Regions from separate parts of the Homo sapiens genome. Here region 2 is linked to region 1. Evidence: fine-mapped expression QTL. A gene starts in region 1. The other region holds a variant in brackets. All regions are shown on one strand. Distances are between the middles of the regions.

Region 1 (9,323 bases):
CAGCAGGTAGAACAACACATGAGGAAGGCGTGAGACTGGGACCTCCTAGCAGGGGGTGGGGAGCTGTGTGGCACAGCAAGACTCCCAGGGCAGGTGGGCAGCCAGGACCCGGGGCTCCAGCGTCACTTCTTCTTGGCGCGGTCTGCTGCGTCCAGGGCAGCCATGTTGCGGGCGGCCGTGATCAGGTGGATGACGCTGATGAGCGACTTCAGCAAGGCGATGGGGGCAGTGACCCAGAGGCCCATCCGGAACAGTCCCACAGAGCCAACTGCAGGAAGGCAGCAGGGGAGTTTGGGGCCCGAAGGAGGGGGCCTCCATCTCCCTGGGCAGGCCAGATCCCCCTCCCATCCTCCTGCCCAGCCCCTCATCTCCTACCTAAAGGTCCCTCAGAGAAATGGAACAGGTAGAGGAGGCAGTAGAAGAGCTCATTCCCAGCACACAAGGTGAACAGAGCAGGCTGCACACACAGCAAACAGGCCACGTTAGCAAGAGGCAGGCGTGTGCCACCCCCTGCCCCCCCAGCACTAATGAAGGCACAATCTCGGCATATTACTTCTCTTATTTTTTTTTCTTTTTTACAGACAGGGTCTCGCTCTCTCATCCAGGTTGGAATGCAGTAGTATGATCATAGCACTGCAGCCTCAAAACTCCTGGTCTCAGCCAGGCGTGTGGCTCATGCCTGGAGTCCCAGCACTTTGGGAGGCTGAGACAGGCGGATCACCTGAGGTCAGGAGTTTGGGACCAGCCTGGCCAACGTGGCGAAACCCCTCTCTACTAACAATACAAAAATTAGCCGAGTGTGGTGGCACGTGCCGGTAGTCCCAGCCACTCAGGAGGCTGAGGCACAAGAATCGCTTGAACCCAGCAGGCAGAGGTTGCAGTGAGCCGATAACCCGCCACTGAACTCCAGCCTGGGTGACAGAGCAGGACTCTGTCTCAAAAAAATAAATAAATAAATAAATAAACCCTTGGTCTCACGCAATCCTTCCACCTTAGCCTCCTAAGTAGAGACTACAGGCGTGTACCACTGTGCCTGGCTAAGCTAATTCAAGATTTTGTGTGTGTGTGGAAACAGAGTCTCACTTTGTTGCCCAGGCTGGTCTCAAACTCCTGGCCTCAAGCAATCCTCCCACCTCAGCCTCCCAAAGCGCTGGGATTACAGGCATGAGCCACCATGCCCAGCCATTATCTTTTTAAAAATCCTTCCAGAGGCTGCCTGTGTTCCTGGAATCAAGTCCACACTCCAGCCCTGCAGACCTCTCTGGCTTATCTCCCTTCCCGCTTTCAGTCCCTTCTCTTTGCAGGCCTCATTCCCACTTGTTCCCTGGAGTAATTCACACAGGCCTTCCCCACCAATCCTCCTCCTCCACGCCTCAGCTTACGGGCCCTCCTCCTGGAGTGACTGGGCAGGCCCTGCTCTGCGCCCTCGCCTTCTCCTAGGCTAGGACCAGGATTCAGCCCAGGGCTTCCCACAGCCAAGAGCCTGAGGGGTGGGGTGTGCAGGAAATGCTTACCCTCGAGGTGTAGTAGATCCGAAGCACCGGATTCCCGGACAAGTCGATCATCTTGTGACTCTCACTGCCTCGGACCACAGAACTTGGGGAGAAAACAGGGGAACCCACAAGGTTTCATGACCACTACCATGCATCCAATCCTCATGTTAACACCTATTGTACAGATGGAAAACTGGGCACGGCTAAGGACCAGTATCCTGCCGAAAGCCACAGTTACCTATTTGGGGGCAGAGTCAGGATTCAAATGCCACATTTGAAAGCTCCCATGCCCCTTCCTATAAGCTGTCACCTATATGGAATCCTAGAATACCCAGCCAGAAGAGTCCTAAGAATTGCTTAATGCAACTGTAAACATGACTGAAGCTTTAAAGAGAGGCAGGTTTGCCTGGGGTCTTTCTACAAAGCAGAGCTAAAAAGGAGCCCTTCCAGGATGCCTAGTGCCATCCCAGACACCCTTCCGTCTAGGCTCAGCCCACCCCACTGTAATGTCTCCAAGTGGCCCAGGCCCCCAGAATCGCAGCAGACCTGTGGAGGTGCAGCCAGTGACTGGCCACATCCAAACTCATGCTGATTTGGAAGAACAGCGTGGCTCCAGGGTACAGCAGGGCCAGGTTGACCAACAGGCACATGGTGGAGCAGCGGTCCGTCAGCATGTCCAGCATGGCCCCAAACCGGGTTCCTGGAAGATTAGGTGGGCAAGGGCTGTTATGGCACAGTGGATGCAGGACAGGTGCCCATATTTGGTTTATCACTCTGACGCAGGGTGTAAACGAAGACTGGAAGTGTCCGCCTGCCTGGGGAGGAACGCAGGCTAGAAAACAGGCTGTGTGTGAGGTCAGTGGGCAAAGGTCACCATGGCATGAACTGAGAAAGGCATGAGAGTGGAGGGAACAGGGTAGGAGGAGAGGAAAGCTATGTCTGCAACTCATCAACCCCAGAACCAAGACTCCAGGGCTAGATAGAGACTTGATGCCTCAGGGGAAGCCTTACAGTTGGGTCTGGAGAACAGATTAAAAAATTAGTCAACCCTCCAGAAGCCATCACCCTTCCCTCTCCATCCTCCCTCTAAGCATGCCTTCTGGAACCCCAACTGCTTATGCAGGGCACACAGTAGGCCTCCAGTAAACACCTGTTGAATACACTGTTTTTTGTTTTTTGTTTTTTTTTTTCCGAGACAGAGTCTTGCTCTGTCGCCCAGGCTGGAGTGCAATGGCGCAATCTTGGCTCACTGCAACCTCCGCCTCCCGGGTTCAAGCAATTCTCCTGCCTTAGCCTCCCGAGTAGCTGGGATTACAGGCACGCGTCACCAAGCCCGCTAATTTTTGTATTTTTAGTAGAGACAGGGTTTCACCATGTTGGCCAGGCTGGTCTCGAACTCCTGAACTCGTGATCCACCCACCTCGGCCTCCCAAAGTGCTGGGATTACAGGCGTGAGCCACCGCCCCTGGCCTGAATGGACTTGTATTCAGAGAGACCTCCAGCAGCGCCACCGCCATGTCATGTCTTGCTAATCCACACCTCTCACAAGCAGTGAGTTCTCAAGAGCTAGCTTAAATTCCTTTTGCTACAAAATCAGTCCATTCTTGCTGGGCGCGGCACTTTGGGAGCAAGGCAGGAGGATCGCTTGAGGCTAGGAGCTGGGGACCAATCTGGGCGACACTGCAAGACCCAGTCTCTACAAAAATTTAAAAATTAGCCGGGTGTGGTGGCACGCTCCTGTAGTCCCAGCTAGTCAGGAGGCTGAGGTGGGAGGATTACTTGAGCCCAGAAGATGGGGGCTGCAGTGAGCCATGATCGCGCCACTGCACTCCAGCCTAAGTGACAGAGCGAGACCCTGTCTCAAAAACAAAAAAACAAAACACAAAACAAAAAGCCCCAGGCCATCCTGTTCTGCTTTTTCCAGAGATGGGAATGACAGCCCTCTGACTCTGAGGTCCCGAGGAGGCAGGGGAAGGGAGGAGGGGATTGTTGAACCCCAAGGCTGGCTGAGAGGGGTGTCTGTCACCTTGATTAAGAGCGCGAGCAGCGTGTCCATCGAAAGCGTCCAGCAGGCCGCTGAGCAGGTAGAAGGAGGAGGCCGTGAGGGGGCAGCAGGGCATGAAGTAGAAAGAAATGATGGCGAAGACAATCCGGGCATAACCTTGGAACGGGACGCGGGGAGACAGGGCAGGATCAGGGAGCCCGCCAAGGCCCCTCGCCCTCTCGTTCGGCCCGGGGCCGTGGGCAGCACTCACCGATGAGGTTGGGCACGAACAGGAAGATATTTTCGTCTGGCATCGCGGCGCCTCCCTTGCTGCCCCGGGCCTGCTCTGGAGATGCCAGTGCTGTCCCAGCCCCGCAGCGCGGCCTCAGCCTCCGGCCCGGCGCATCGGCCGCACCACCTGCGCCCTGGACCCCGCCGCCCCAACCTGGCCCCAGATGCTGAAGCCCGCAGCCGTCGGGAGCATGGACCGGCCCCGAGGTGCGCGGGACGCAGGGGGCGCGCGCAGTCCGCCCTTCCTACCCGCAACCTCCCTCGCCTCTGCCAGCCCCGCAGGCGCTCCGGGCCTCCAGCTGCGGTCGCCGCTGCTCCAGCTGCGCGTGGCTTCCGGGAACCTCCTCCTCCGCGCCCGTCGTTGCAAAATTGGAGAGAGGAAAAAGTGGCTTAAAAAAATAGTTGCGGCCCCTTTAAGGCCTGTCGGCTTCCTTTCCCTTTTCCTCCCTCCGCCCCTCTCCCTTGGCTCGTACCAAAGCGCAGAGGAGGAGAGGGAGGAAGGAACCATTAACGTCAAGCAAAGTTAGAAACGGAAAAGGAAAGGGTAAAAGAGAAGACCGAATAAAAATCTCTGCTTTCCTTTTGTGGAGGGTATGACTTCCTGGAGGCAAAGATAAGGCGATAAAATTCCTCCTCCTGAGTCTTTGCGTCCCCAAGAGGCCAGGAGATTTGGTGCAGTCCTCACTTTACTCCCCGCCCCCTAAGTCTCCAGCCGCCTTTGCTCTCGCAGGCTCTAGGCGGCTAGAGAGGCTCCAGAGCGCCCTGCAGATGGGTTGCTTTTCGCGTGCCCCTTGTGATGGGAGGATTAGGTCGCAGGCTCCACCCTACGTCATCCTCCCAAGCTTCTCAAGCGTCTGGCGCTTGGGGTCACTGCCCTCAAGGAGGCACCTGGAGGGGTACGGAGGGGAGGCTGGAGGAGCAAACGGGGCGCGCTAGGAAATTCCTCTGTCTTTAGTTCTAGAACCCCTGATCTCCTAGCAACGAGGCTGCGGAACCTCTGCAGACTCCAAGGGTTTTATAGCGTCCGGTAGCGACACGGAGCCGGCTCCCCCTTTTCCAGCCTTCCTCCCCATCTCCCATTCTCCATCCCCCACGACCTATACCAGAGGTCCTTAGGCCTCCACGTCTCTCCTTTTGCCGAGTAGCCCAAGGTTTCCACCCATCTGCCAGGTCTGGGGCGTCAAGTCGGCTGCCTCGGCTTGGGAAGGTGCTTGGGAGGGAAGAAGGAAGGAGAGGCCCACCAGGCGAAGGGGTGAGGGGTAGGGGGTTGCGGGAGTTCCCTCTCACTCCCGAAGATATAAAGCAACCTTTATTATTATTATTATTTTTTCTTGTGAGAGGGAATGAGGCAGCGGGATGTTTCCTCTAAAGGCCTTGTTTAAACCTGGGCCCGGGGAATGGTGGTGGACTGGGTTCTGGGGGAAAGCGGGCTGGTTTCTCAGGTCAACTCAGGCTTCGACTGTTCCCAGGGGGATGGCGTCCACTCCGATGGGGAATGAGGGGGAGAAGAAGAGCAGCTGGCCATCTCAAGCTGCACCCTCCTTGAGAGGAGGTCCGGTGAGCACTGCAGGGAACCCTAGAGGTGGGAATGTAATGAAGTGAAAGCCTCCCAGGCAGAGGCACCCCGTGCCAGGTCTGAGCCACGGGCCCTGAGACTCTAGCCTCAACCCTGAGTCCTGAAGCCCCGACTCATAGCTCTCAGCACTAGGCCCTGACTCTAAACCCCCACCAAACCCCCCTCCCCCAGGTCCAGAGCTTTCTAGCTAAATCTCAAGGCCCAGTCCTTCAGGAGCAAGCTCCTTGGACCCACAGGCCCCAGCCTGGGAACTCCCACAGCCAGCACTCCCATGTGGGAGCTCCCAGGCTGAACCCCTCCGGCTTTTCCTTTCCCAGGCTTCGTTATCTCGTTCTGAGGAATACCTGTCCCAGATCAGTGCAGAACTCATGGAGGAGGCTTTGTGCACTGCTTGCTGCCACTTGAACCCTGTGCCCATCAAAAAAAAGCAGTCACAAGACCAAGCGACTCAGATATCCAAACGCGGTAACCCCCTGCCTCAGGACCACCGTGTCTAGAGAACCGCTGCCCCCACTATGCCTGGTTACAGTCCCTGACCCCTCCCACCCCTAGCTGAACTCTCCAGGAGTCTGTGCCCATCTCATCCATCTCACAGCCAGCCCTAGGACCTGTGAAATGCCCCTCTCACCCGCTAACCCAGTACCCACTCCTCACTGCTGGCCGAGAATCCCCTTAGCCCCGTCTGCCCTGGCCGCATCTCTTCTGGCCACGGGGATAGTCCTTTCTCTGACTAGGTCCTCTACTTCCAGCATTCTTCACCAAGACCTGAGGCACAGACACCTGGTGAGTGAGGCTTCAAGGGAGATGCTCTTTGTCCTGGGAGAGAGGTGAGGAACCTGGAGGGGAGAGAGTGAGGGTTTCACAATATCCCAGCAGGGTGGGGGAATTTTTGAACCGTGCACTTCCATTCTATTCTGCCCTGATCCTCAAATTCTGAATTCTCAGCCCTCTCCCCTCTCTTCCACCATCTCCTGCTCGGACAGAAACCGTACCTGCAGCAAGGCATACCTCCTGCCAACTCCTGGTGAAAAGGTACATGCAGGGTCCATGGCTGCCAAGGCTATTCGATATTAACCAAACCTTTTGAGTTTGCACTATATGTTGGTCCCTGTCTTAGGAGCTTGGGACACTGAAATGAATGGTACAGTCTCAGCCCTTGAAGAGTTCACAGTTCAGTGTGGGGACAGACAAGGAAATGGCCAATTATAATACAGTCTGGATAAGTTTCCATAATAGAAATGGACACAGTGGGATAGTACTCTTATCCCAGCTTCAATTGGACAGGAAGGACAGGAGCCATGGAGCTTCTTCTTTTTTTTTTTGAGACGGAGTCTTGCTCTGTTGCCCAGGCTGGAGTGCAGTGGTGTGATCTCAGCTCACTGCAAGCTCCACCTCCTGGGTTCACGCCATTCTCCTGCCTCAGCCTCCCAAGTAGCTGGGACTACAGGCACCCGCCACCACACCCGACTAATTTTTTTGTATTTTTAGTAGAGACGGGGTTTCACCGTGTTAGCCAGGATGGTCTTGATCTCCTGACCTCATGATCCGCCCTCCTTGGCCTCCCATAGTGTTGGGATTACAGGCTTTGGAGCTTCTTGAAGGAGGTAGCACCTAAAGAAATAATTTTCCACCAGGTGCAGTGGCTCACACCTGTAATCCCAGCATTTTTGGGAGGCTGAGGTGGGCTGATCACTTCAGGGCAGGAGTTTGAGACCAGCCTGGTCAACATGGTGACAGAGGTTGCAGTGAGCTGAGATCATACCACTGCACTCCAGCCTGGGCGACAGTGAGACCATCTCAAAAAAAAAAAGAAATAATTTTCCAGGTTAAAAAAAAAAGAGGTTAGTAGGAGTCTTTCAAGCAGTTGGGGTTGCATGAACAAAGGCAAAGAGCAGTCTTCGCAGAGCCAGTGTGAGCATCTGTGTGTATTTAGGGCAGGGAGAAGCAGTTTAGCAGCTGGAGTCTACAGGCAAGGTAAGAGGGGACTCAAGAGACTTTATGTGCCTTGTTTAGAGCCTTACACACTTTCCTGGCTGGGTGTGGTCGCTTATGCCTGTAATCCCAGCACTTTGGGAAGCTGAAGCAGGAGGATCGCTTGCGTCCAGGAGTTTGAGACCAGCCTGGGCAACATGGTGATACCCCAGGCATGATGGCATGTGCCTGTGATCCCAGTTACTTGGGAGGTGGGAGGATCGCTTGAGCCCAGGAGTTCAAGAATAGCCTGGGCAACATAGAGAGACCCCATCTCTATAAAAAGTTAAAAAAATTAGCCAGGTGTGGTGGCACGAACCTGTGGTCTCAGCTACTTGAGAGGCGGAGGCCAGAGGATCACTTGAGCCTAGGAGGTTGAGGCTGCAGTGAACCATGTTCATGCCACCGCATTCCAGCCTGAGTGACAGTGCAAGACCCTGTCTCAAAAAGAAAAATTTAAAAAAAAGAAAAGAAAGAAAGAAATAGTAGGAGGAGCTGGGTGCGGTGGCTCATACCTGTAATCCCAGCACTTTGGGAGGCCAAGGCGGGTGGATCATGAGGTCAGGAGTTCAAGATCAGCCTGGCCAACATAGTGAAACCTTGTCTTAACTAAAAATACAAACGTTAGGTCAGGCGCGGTGGCTCACACCTGTAATCTCAGCACTTTGGGAGGCCCAGGCGGGCAGATCACCTGAGGTCAGGAGTTTGAGACCAGCCTGGCCAACATGGGGAAACCCTGTCTCTACTAAAAATACAAAAATTAGCTGGGTTGGTGGTATGCACCTCTAATCCCAGCTACTCAGGAGGCTGAGGCAGGAGAATCGCTTGAACCCAGGAGTTGGAGGTTGCAGTGAGCCGAGATCACACCACTGCACTCCAGCCTGGGCTGCAGAGCAAGACTCTTTCTCAAAAAAAAAAAAAAAAAAAAAAGCCAGGCATTGTGTCACGCACCTGTAATCCCAGCTACTTGAGAAGCTGAGGCAGAGACTTGATTGAACCCGGGAGGTGGAGGTTGCAGTGAGCTGAGATTGCACCACTGCACTCCAGCCTGGGCCACAGATCGAGACTCTGTCTCCAAAAAATTAAATAAATAAAAATTAAGCACTTACTATGTGCCAGCACTGCTCGAGGGGCTGGGGTGTTGCAGTGAACGAAACAGAGTTCCTGCTATCAAGAGGTTTAAAAAATTAGCCGGGTATGGTGGTGCACAGCTGTGGTCCCAGCTACTCGGGAGGCTGAGGTGGGAGGATCATTGGAGCCCAGGTTGAGGCTGCAGGAAGATATGATTACACCACTGCACTCTAGCCTGGCTGACAGAGGGAGACCTGTCTCGAGAAAAATAAAAAAGACATGAGCCTTGGGTCTAAAGAGTGAAAAGGCTCTGTCTCTTTTATGGAGCTCTTCCTAACAGTCAGTTTGGAAGATGAGCCCACCCCTCTTTGATGCTCTTGGCTTCTCATGCCTCCCCCTTTTTGTCCCTAGAACATGCCTCAAAACTACTCTTTTGCCACTCGTTAACCACTTCCGTTTGTGGGGACCTCCTGGTCATGAGCAGCATCATCCCGAAGCCTTCAAAGTGTTCTGGATTCATCACAGGACCCTCCAGCCTCAGCCAGCAAGGATACCACCAGGAATGAAAGTGCTTTAATAAAGAGACAGGGTGTGCATTGCTCATGTGTGGTTTCTCTGGGGTAGAGAAGCAGGACGGGGGGGCTTTTATTTTTTTTTCTAGATGTGGGTGCTGGATGTGGGCATACGATTGGAGTGTTTAGTCTTTAAAAAAATTTTTTTGTGGCCAGGCACGGTGGCTTACGCCTGTAATCCCAGCACAGATCATGAGCTGAGGATATCAAGACCATCCTGGCCAACACGGTGAAACCCTGTCTGTACTAAAAATACAAAAAATTAGCCGGGCATGGTGGCACGTGCCTGTAGTCCGAGCTACTCGGGAGGGAGGCTGTGGCAGGAGAATCACTTGAACCTGGGAGGCGGAGGTTGCAGTGAGCTG
Region 2 (9,753 bases), 810 kb before region 1:
CTCTACTGAAAAACATACAAAAATTAGCTGGGCGTGATGGTGCATGCCTGTAGTCCCAGCCACTTGGGAGGCTGAGGCATGAGAATCGCTTGAACCCAGGAGGCAGAGGTTGTAGTGAGCCAAGATCACGTCAGCACACTCTAGCCTGGGTGACAGAGCGAGACTCTGACTCAAAAAATAAATAAAATAAATATCACTTACATTAGATATACCCAAGGGGTGTTCTATAGAGAGTTGGAAGCAGTGGTTATTGCAACGGGCACGGAAGTCATCTGGCTATGCCAGGGTGCCCAGGGGATACTCGGGGTGGGTGGCATGGTGCTGCTGGGGACTCACCGCACAGGACGCTCTGATTGACGCACTGCCAGGAGTAGCGCTCTGTCTTGGGGCTGCAGCCGGCCTCCTCAGCTCGAGTGTAACAACAGTCGTGGCCATGGCAGCACCTGCGGATGTCACATGGGCAGGACAGCAGGTGGGTGAAGCTCTCTCCTGGCCCTCCTCTCTTGCCAGGACCATGGGTGACTGAAGACCCCCAGGGAGGCACAGCATCCTCTTATCTAAGTTTTTTTTTTTTTTTTTTTTTTTTTTTTTTTTTTTTTAAGAGACAGGGTCTTTCTCTGTCGCCCAGGCTGGACTGCAGAGGCACAATCATAGCTCACGGCAGCCTTGAACTCCTGGGCTCAAGCGATCCTCCTACTTCAGTGTCCCAAGTAGCTGAGACTACAGGCACACGCCAGCATGCCCGGCTGGTTTTTTAATTTGTATTTCCTTTGAGACAGCGTATCTCTCTGTTGCTCAGGCTGGGGTGCAATGGCTCCATCAGCTCACTTTAGCCTTGAACTCCCGGGCTCAAGTGATACTGCCACCTCAACCTCCCAAGTATGCTACTACAGGAACACAAACTCCTTTTTTAAATTTTTTGTGGATATGGGGTCTATGTTGCCTAGGCTGGTCTCGAACTCCCAGGCTCAAGCAGTCCTCCTACCTCAGCCTCCCCAAATGCTGGGATTACAGGTGGGAGCTACTGTACGCCTGGCCTTATCTAAGCTGTTTCCCTGAAAATCCCCGACTTCGATAATGATTCCATTGGCCCCACCATGCCCTGTCCTGCCTTCCTGGCTGTGCCCAAGCTTGGTCCCTGCCTGCCTGCCTCACTCTCTGGGTCTCGAGCTCCTGTGACACATGACTCCTCTCTCTTCCTGGAGTGATCCAAGCCCTGCCACTTCCTGACCTTGCCCACACTGTACCCTCTGCCTGGGGCAACTTCATGTCTGCCCATTGTCCCTTAGGCCTCAGCCCAGGCACAAGCCCCTGCCTCCGGAGGTCATCCAGGCCTCACCAGGTTACACCCTCTCGTAAAATTGGATTCCCTCCCTTCAGGGCAGGTTTATAATGAAATCCTCCTCAGAGGCCAGGTGCGGTGACACCCATCTGTAATCCCAGCACTTTGGGAGGCTGAGGTGGGAGGATCACTTGAGGCCAGGGGGTCGAGACCAGCCTGAGCAACATAAGAGAGACTCTTGTCTCTATAACAAATTTAAAAATTAGCTCACCAGGCCAGGCTCAGTGGCTCATGCCTGTAATCCCAACACTTTGAGAGGCCGAGGCAGGTGGATCACGAGGTCAGGAGTTCGAGAGCAGCCTGACCAACATGGTGAAACCCTGTCTCTACTAAAAATACAAAATTAGCCAGGCATGGTGGCACGCACCTGTAATCCCAGCTACTCGGGAGGCTGAGGTAGGAGAGTTGCTTGAACCCAGGAGGTGGAGGTTGCGGTGAGCCAAGATCATGCCACTGCAGTCCAGCCTGAGCAACAGAGCAAGACTCTGTCTCAAGACAATAAAAACACACAAAAAATTAACTCGCCATGATGGCACATGCCTATAGTCCTAGCTACTTGGGAGGCTGAGGTGGGAGGATTCCCTCCAGCCCAGGAGTTTGAGGCTGCAGTGAGCCACTATGATTGTGCCACTGCACTCTAACCTGGGCAAAAGCGAGACCCCAGGCTAGAGTGCATGATTTTGGGTCACTGCAACCTCCACCTCCCAGGTTCAAGTGATTCTCCTGCCTCAGCCTCTTGAGTAGCTGGGACTACAGGCATGTGCCACCACGCCTGGGTAATTTTTGTATTTTTAGTAGAGACAGGGTTTAGTAGAGACCATGGTGAAACCCCGTCTCTATAAAACAAATCTCTACTAACCCCATCTCTACAAAAAACAGCTGGGCGTGGTAGTGCACACCTGTAATTCCAGCTACTTGGGAGGCTGAGGCACGAGAATCATTTGCATCTTGGAGGCAGAGTTTGCAGTGAGCTGACATCGCACCACTGCACTCCAGCCGGGATGACAGAGCAAGACCCTGTCTCAAAAAAAAGAAAAAGGAACAAACAACAGCCACAACAAAAAAACCTCTGTGTCAATCACAGCCTTCAAGCTAGGGGAGAGGCGGCCGAATTCTGCCCTCTGCTAACTAACTATAGCTTTGTGGAAATGGGTGAGTGGCATGCCCCTGTGAGCCTCAGGGCCCCATCTGTAAAATGGGCATAACTGTCATGCCCGTCTTTAAGAACAGCCTTGGGGGTAAATGAGTGGAACTCATGGAAAGATCTCAGCCCACAACCTTCCACAGAACAGGCGCTTCTCACACAGTAAGTAGCAGGAGTGCAGAGGCTGCAGGCATGAATCCAGTCAGACTGCAGACTGCCTGGGTTCAAGTCCCAGCTCCCACGTCTTGGTAACTAAGTGGCCTCAGACAAGTTACTTAGTATTTCTTCTTCTTCTTTTTTTTTTTTTTTTCAGACGGAGTTTTGCTCTGTCACCCAGGCTGGAGTGCAGTGGTGTGATCTCGGCTCACTGCAACCTCCGCCTCCCGGGTTCAAGCAATTCTCCTGCCTCAGCTTCCTGAGTAGCTGGAATTACAGGAACCTGCCACCACATCCAGCTAATTTTTGTATTTTTAGTAGAGACAGGGTTTCACCATGTTGGCCAGGATGGTCTCGAACTCCTGACCTCGTGATCTGCCTGCCTCAGCCTCCCAAAGTACTGGGATTACAGGCGTGAGCCACCGCACCTGGACACGTTACTGAATATTTCTGTGCCTAGGTTTCTTCATCTGTGAAATGGGATTGTTGTGAGAACACAAAGGGATTCCCAGGGCAGTTCCTAGTGCATAGTCTGGCTGCCTTTGTTTGTTTGTGTGTGTGTGTGTGTGTGTGTGTGTGTGTGTGTGTGTGTTTGTGTTTGTGTTTAATATAGAGACAGGGTCTCACTCTGTTGCCTAGGCTCGTTTCAAACTCCTGGGCTCCAGTGATCCTCCTGCCTCGACCCAAAGTGGTGGGATTACAGGCATGAGTCAACACACCTGGCCACTTTATATTATTATTATTTTTTTCTTTTGAGACAGGGTTTGGCACTGTTGTCCAGGTTGGAATACAGCGGTGCAATCTCAACTCACTGCAAACTCCACCTCCCGGGTTCAAGCAATTCTCCTGCCTCAGTCTCCCGAGTAGCTGAGATTACAGACGCCTGCCACCACACACAGCTAATTTTTGCATTTTTAGTAGAGATGGGGTTTCACCATATTGGCCAGGCTGGTCTTGAACTCCTGACCTCAAGTGATCTGCCCACCTCGGCCTCCCAAAGTGCTGGGATTACAGGAGTTAGCCACCGCTCCTGGCCAATTTTTTAAGGCAACGTTTTCAGCCCATGGCCAGGGTAAGGGGCAGCTGGTACCAAGATCTGGCTTCACTGGCCATGTTATCCAAGAGGCCTCTGCCTGCCTGCAAAGTAGTACTGCACACTGGGATCTCCCTGGACCAAATCCCAGCTTCAGTTTTGGGTACTTCCTCATAAGCCTTGACTACCCCAGAGTGTGAGGGATTTTGTAGCCTGGTCCCAGGCATGCACTCACCAGTCAATGGCATCGCAGGGCTGGCCATGGCCTCCCAAGCCACAAAAGGAACCATATTTCGTATAGGCGATGGGAGTCTAGGGACCAACACAACCCACAATTCCTGCCAGTTCCAGGATCCCACGCCGGTGCACACATAATATCCTGGAGGCTGGGGGGTAAACAAAGGTGACAGGCTGCAGGTCAGGGCTTCCCAGACCCCTGGGAAGGGCATGAGCCTGAGAAGAGCCTAGGTGTTACAGCCTGGCTGTCTGGGTTTGAATCCTACTTCCTAGCTGTGTGACCTTGGACGAATTCCTAACCTCTCTGGGCCTTGGTTTCCTCATCTGTGAAATGGGGGATAAGCTGACTTCAACTCATATGAATGAAATGAGATAATGAGTATAAAGCCCCTGGTGCATGAAAAGGCTATTATAATCCGGCTGGGCTCAGTGGCTCACACCTGTAATCCCAAGACTTTGGGAGGCCCAGGTGGGCAGATCACCTGAGGTCAGCAGTTCAAGATCAGCCTGGCCAACATGGTGAAACCCCATCTGTAGTAAAAATACAAAAATTAGCTGAGCCTAGTGGTGCACACCGGTAATCCCAGCTACTAGGGAGGCTGAGGAAGGAGAGTCACTTGAACCTGAGAGGTGAAGATTGCAGTGAGCCAAGATTTTGCCACTGCATTCCAACCTGGACGACAGAGCAAGAGTCTCAAAAAAAGAAAAAGAAAAAAAGGATAACTATTATAATCAAGGTCCTCAAGGTAGCCAAGAAGGGAAAAAAGAGTCGTGCATGAAACGTTTGTCCAGTTCCCTGTGTTGGGCACTGGGCATCACGGATGTGCCTACAGGTGTCTGTCACCAAGGTGGGCTCCTCTGTGGCAGCTCCCGGGCCCTGGCACTGCCCTGTGCTCATGACTTCCCCTCCAGACTCAGGGCCCTTGGTATCTCCTCTTATTTTCACTGCCAGACAGGAAGGCCCCTTGGCCTGAGTCCAGCCATTTTTCTAGATCCTGGCACAGCTTGGACATGTAATGGTGCCCAACGCATGTGACTGGAACCCCTGCATTGGACATGAAGGAAACGAGGCCAGCTGGGAAAGGTAACCCCACATTCCCACAGCCAGCAGGAACCCAAGCAGAGGCTTCAACCCAGGCTTCTGACTTGCAAACCAGTGCTCCTTCCTCCTTACACAGTAACAACAGGGGAAG[G/A]TGGCCTTCTGGGTTGCCAGAGCCGAGTGGTACCAGCAATAGAGTGGAAACTCACACACAGGCTTGCCTGCTTCCTGGGTTAGGGTTAGGGTTTATATGGCTCCGGGAGGTTGATGCATTGTGTTTGATCATCCCCCCCTTTTTTTTTTTTTGAGACAGAGTCTCATTCCTGTTGCCCAGGCTGCAGCACAGTGGTGTAATCTTGCTCACAGCAACTTCTGCCTCCCAGGTTCAAGCAATTGTCCCGCCTCAGCCTCCCGAGTAGCTGGGATCACAGGTGTGCGCCACCACACCCAGCTGATTTTTGTATTTTTAGTAGAAACGGGGTTTCACCATCTAGGCCAGGCTGGTCTTGAACTCCTGACCTCATATGATCCACCTGGTTTGGCCTCCCAAAGTGCTGGGATTATAGGCGTGAGCCACTGCGCTCATCCTGATCATCTCGTCTCTCTTTTTTTTTTTAGAGACAGGGTCTCACTCTGTCACCCACACTGGAGTGCAGTGGCACAATCATAGCTCACTGCAGCCTCCAAATCCTGGGCTCAAGCGATCCTCCTGCCTCAGCCTCCAGACATATGGGCATGCACCACCATGCCCAGCTAATTTTTAAATTTTTAGTAGATCTGGGGTCTCACTATGTTGCCCAGGCTGTTCACAAACTCCTGGCCTCAAGTGATTCTCCTGCCTTGGCCTCCGAAGGCGCTGGGATTCCAGGCATGAGCCACCATGCCCAGTCTCATTTCTGTTTTATCTAGAACATGTTTTCATCACACTGACTTTTTTGAGAAGTCCAGGCCAGATTTAAATTCCATTTTGTCTTTTTATCGGTGGAAAAGTAGCATATTTATGTTGCAGGACAAAGATGAATCAAATAGGAAGAAAATGTAAAACACATTTGGGGCCAGGCACAGTGGCTCATGCCTGTAATCCCAGCACTTTGGGAGGCCAAGGTGGGCAGATCACCTGAAGTCAGGAGTTCCAGACCAGCCTGACCAACATGGAGAAACCATGTTTTTTTTTTTTTTTTTTTTTTTTTTTATTGATCATTCTTGGGTGTTTCTCGCAGAGGTGGATTTGGCAGGGTCATAGGACAATAGCGGAGGGAAGGTCAGCAGATAAACAAGTGAACAAAGGTCTCTGGTTTTCCTAGGCAGAGGACCCTGCGGCCTTCTGCAGTGTTTGTGTCCCTGGGTACTTGAGATTAGGGAGTGGTGATGACTCTTAACGAGCATGCTGCCTTCAAGCATCTGTTTAACAAAGCACATCTTGCACCACCCTTAATCCATTTAACCCTGAGTGGACACAGCACATGTTTCAGAGAGCACAGGGTTGGGGTAAGGTCACAGATCAACAGGATCCCAAGGCAGAAGAATTTTTCTTACTACAGAACAAAATGAAAAGTCTCCCATGTCTACTTCCTTCTACACAGACACGGCAACCATCCGATTTCTCAATCTTTTCCCCACCTTTCCCCCCTTTCTATTCCACAAAACCGCCACTGTCATCATGGCCCGTTCTCAATGAGCTGTTGGGCACACCTCCCAGCCGGGGTGGCGGCCGGGCAGAGGGGCTCCTCACTTCCCAGTAGGGGCGGCCGGGCAGAGTCGCCCCTCACCTCCCGGACAGGGCGGCTGGCCGGGTGGGGGGCTGACCCCCCCACCTCCCTCCCGGGTGGGGCGGCTGGTTGGGCGGGGGACTGATCCCCCCACCTCCCTCCCGGGTGGGGCGGCTGGCCGGGCGGGGGGGCTGACTCCCCCACCTCCCTCCCAGACGGGGCGGCTGGCCGGGCGGGGGGGCTGACCCCCACCTCCCTCCCGGACGGGGTGGCTGCCGGGCGGAGACGCTCTTCACTTCCCAGACGGGGTGGCTGCCGGGCGGAGGGGCTCCTCACTTCTCAGACGAGGCGGCTGCCGGGCGGAGGGGCTCCTCACTTCTCAGACGGGGCGGTCGCCAGGCAGAGGGTCTCCTCACTTCTCAGACGCTCCTCACCTCCCAGACGGGGTCGCGGCCGGGAAGAGGCGCTCCTCACTTCCTAGATGGGATGGCGGCCGGGCAGAGAGGCTCCTCACTTTCCAGACTGGGCAGCCAGGCAGAGGGGCTCCTCACATCCCAGATGATGGGCGGCCAGGCAGAGACGCTCCCCACTTCCCCGACGGGGTGGCGGCTGGGCAGAGGCTGCAATCTCGGCACTTTGGGAGGCCAAGGCAGGCGGTTGAGAGGTGGAGGTTGTAGCGAGCCGAGATCATGCCACTGCACTCCAGCCTGGGCACCATTGAGCACTGAGTGAAGGAGACTCCGTCTGCAATCCCAGCACCTCGGGAGGCCGAGGCTGGCGGATCACTAGCGGTCAGGAGCTGGAGACCAGCCCGGCCAACACGGCGAAACCCCGTCTCCACCAAAAAACACAGATGGCGCGTGCCTGCAATCCCAGGCACTTGGCAGGCTGAGGCAGGAGAATGAGGCAGGGAGGTTGCAGTGAGCCGAGATGGTGGCAGTACAGTCCAGCCTCGGCTCGGCATCAGAGGGAGACTGTGGAAAGTGGGAGAGGAAGGGGGAGGGGGAGGGAGAGGACAAAAAATTAAAATTTAGCCGGACATGGTTGTGTGTGCCAGTAGTCCAAGCTGCTGGGGAGACTGAGGCAGGAGGATCACTTGAGCCCAGGAACTTAAGGTCTATTTAAGTAAAGGGTACAGTGAGCTATGATTATACCACTGCACTCCAGCCTGGGGAATAGAGCAAGACCCTGTCTCTAAAAAAAGGTAACAAAATAACATGAATGGATTCCATTTTAAGAGAATGAAGCATCATTGTGTAAGACTATGAAATTGGAAGCAAAGAGCATGAAGCCCAAAAAAAAAAAAAAACCATCTGAAGTCAGGGTGCCTGGGGTCAGAGGTGGGGGGAGGATTGAAGAGGTGCAGATGTAAAAAACTGAAGCTACTGTGACCAGTGGATTCGGGAGTTGAAGGAGTCAAGAATGACACATTCTCCTGACTGGAGGATAAACAAATATGACTGTTTTCAAGAAATAGCTGGAATATTCTTTGTGTTCAGAAGTACAAGAACAGCACATATGGAGGGCGGACTGATACTGAAGTTGAAGAGAAGCCTTCTGACGTGCACTAACTAGATTCTAGACTCAGCTTCTGTCACAAGGAGCCCCAAACAGTGACTCAGCAAAATAGCTTATTTCTCATGTGACAGTTCAGAGGTGATTGGTCCAGGGTTAGGGTTAGACAACAACCGTTATGCAAAATCATCTAGGGACCCAGGGCTGCGCTGTCATGTTGCTCTTGCATCCCCAAGGTTGTCATCTGTGTGGTTAAAGCGGCTCACCAGCCCCAAGTCCTCGTTCAAGCCCATGCAAAAGGAAGCGGAAATACAGGGCCTGGAAATTACACTGATCCCATTGGCCAGAACTTAGTCTCACCTTCTTACCACCCTATATGCGAGACTAAAATGCCTCTAGCTGGATAGTTACATGTTCATTTAAACTTGGGTCATTTTGTTTCTAAATGAAGGGAAGGGGCACAAGTATTAGTCTGTCACAGAAGAGAAAGAACAGAGAGAAAGGTTTTGAAGGGAATGACTTATAAATAGTTACCCGAAGTCTGGTCGTGGCTGACATCAGAGCCAGCATGTTGACCACTTCCATACTGCGTGCTTTAGCTGCCTTATCTCACTTAATCTCAGAATAACCCTATTGTCATTCCCAACTTGTAGATGGGAAAACAGACCCAAAGAGAAGTGATTTACCTTCCACACAATGGGGAAGTAAGGGGGCTAGGTGCACGTCAAGGCAGCCTGTGCCTGGCTCTTATACCTGGTGCTGCTTACATTTCCAGAGGGGGCAGCCTAGAGGAGAGGCCTAGGGACTGGACTCAACGTGCGAGTGCTTGGTGGAAGGGAAGCCAGAGGATCGAGTGGCCAGAGGTTAAGAACCAGGGAGGAGCAGTGATGAAAAGGCTGGAGAGCTTATGCATTTCAGGGCTGGGCTGCCAAGTACCTCACTTGGCCAGTTCAGCATTCTTAGGCAGGAGGCACAGCCATTGTGTTGTCCAATGCCAGGGTATATACCTTTTTCAGTTTCCAATCTACCAATGGTGACCTTTGAACAGCATTGTCAAACCCTTTTCTGCCCAGGGCTAGATAGTATATATTTTAAGCTTTGTGGGCCACACGTGGATTGTCACTCCTTTTCTTAACTTTTTTTTTTTTTTTTTGAGACAGGGTCTCCGCTCTGTCGCCCAGGCTGTTAACTACCGTTAACATTTTAATGCCTCTCTTTCTGGTGTGTGTATATTTATTACTAGACTGGAATCATCCTATATCTATGTCATCTGTTGCTGTTTCCTGTCCCTTTACATAAAGTGAGCTGCTTTCTGAAATTTTATTTATTTTATAATTTATTTATTTTATAGACAGAGTCTTGCCCTGTCACCCAGGTTGGAGTTCAGTGGTGCAATCTCAGCTCACTGCAATCTCAGCCTCCCGAGTAGCTGGGACTACAGACACTCGCCACCACACCCGGCTAATTTTCATATTTTTAGTACAGATGGGTTTTCACCATGTTGGCCAGACTGGTCTTGAACTCCTGGCCTCAAGTGATCTGCCCGCCTCAGCGTCCCAAAGTGCTGGGATTACAGGC

The links. PIP is the estimated chance that this variant, and not a neighbour inherited with it, causes the effect.
Region 2: its variant is fine-mapped to the expression of CDIPT in whole blood (GTEx, PIP 0.95).

The regions. Positions count from the first base shown.
Region 1 is chr16:29,859,067-29,868,389 of GRCh38, forward strand. CDIPT (CDP-diacylglycerol--inositol 3-phosphatidyltransferase) reads right to left here and starts at 4,160. Exons shown (of 6, transcript NM_006319.5): 1 at 3,749-4,160; 2 at 3,520-3,654; 3 at 2,040-2,193; 4 at 1,515-1,596; 5 at 376-457; 6 at 1-268. The coding sequence starts at 3,791. The coding sequence ends at 123. It also overlaps the pseudogene CDIPTOSP. RefSeq lists enhancers at 1,587-2,125, 4,281-4,818 and silencers at 3,853-4,162, 4,173-4,232.
Region 2 is chr16:29,053,398-29,063,150 of GRCh38, forward strand. It overlaps the pseudogene PLA2G10CP. Among named protein-coding and RNA genes, the nearest start is that of LAT, 73 kb to the left of the region's middle. RefSeq lists a silencer at 8,337-8,537. The variant G/A (reference allele first, on the strand shown) is at 5,106.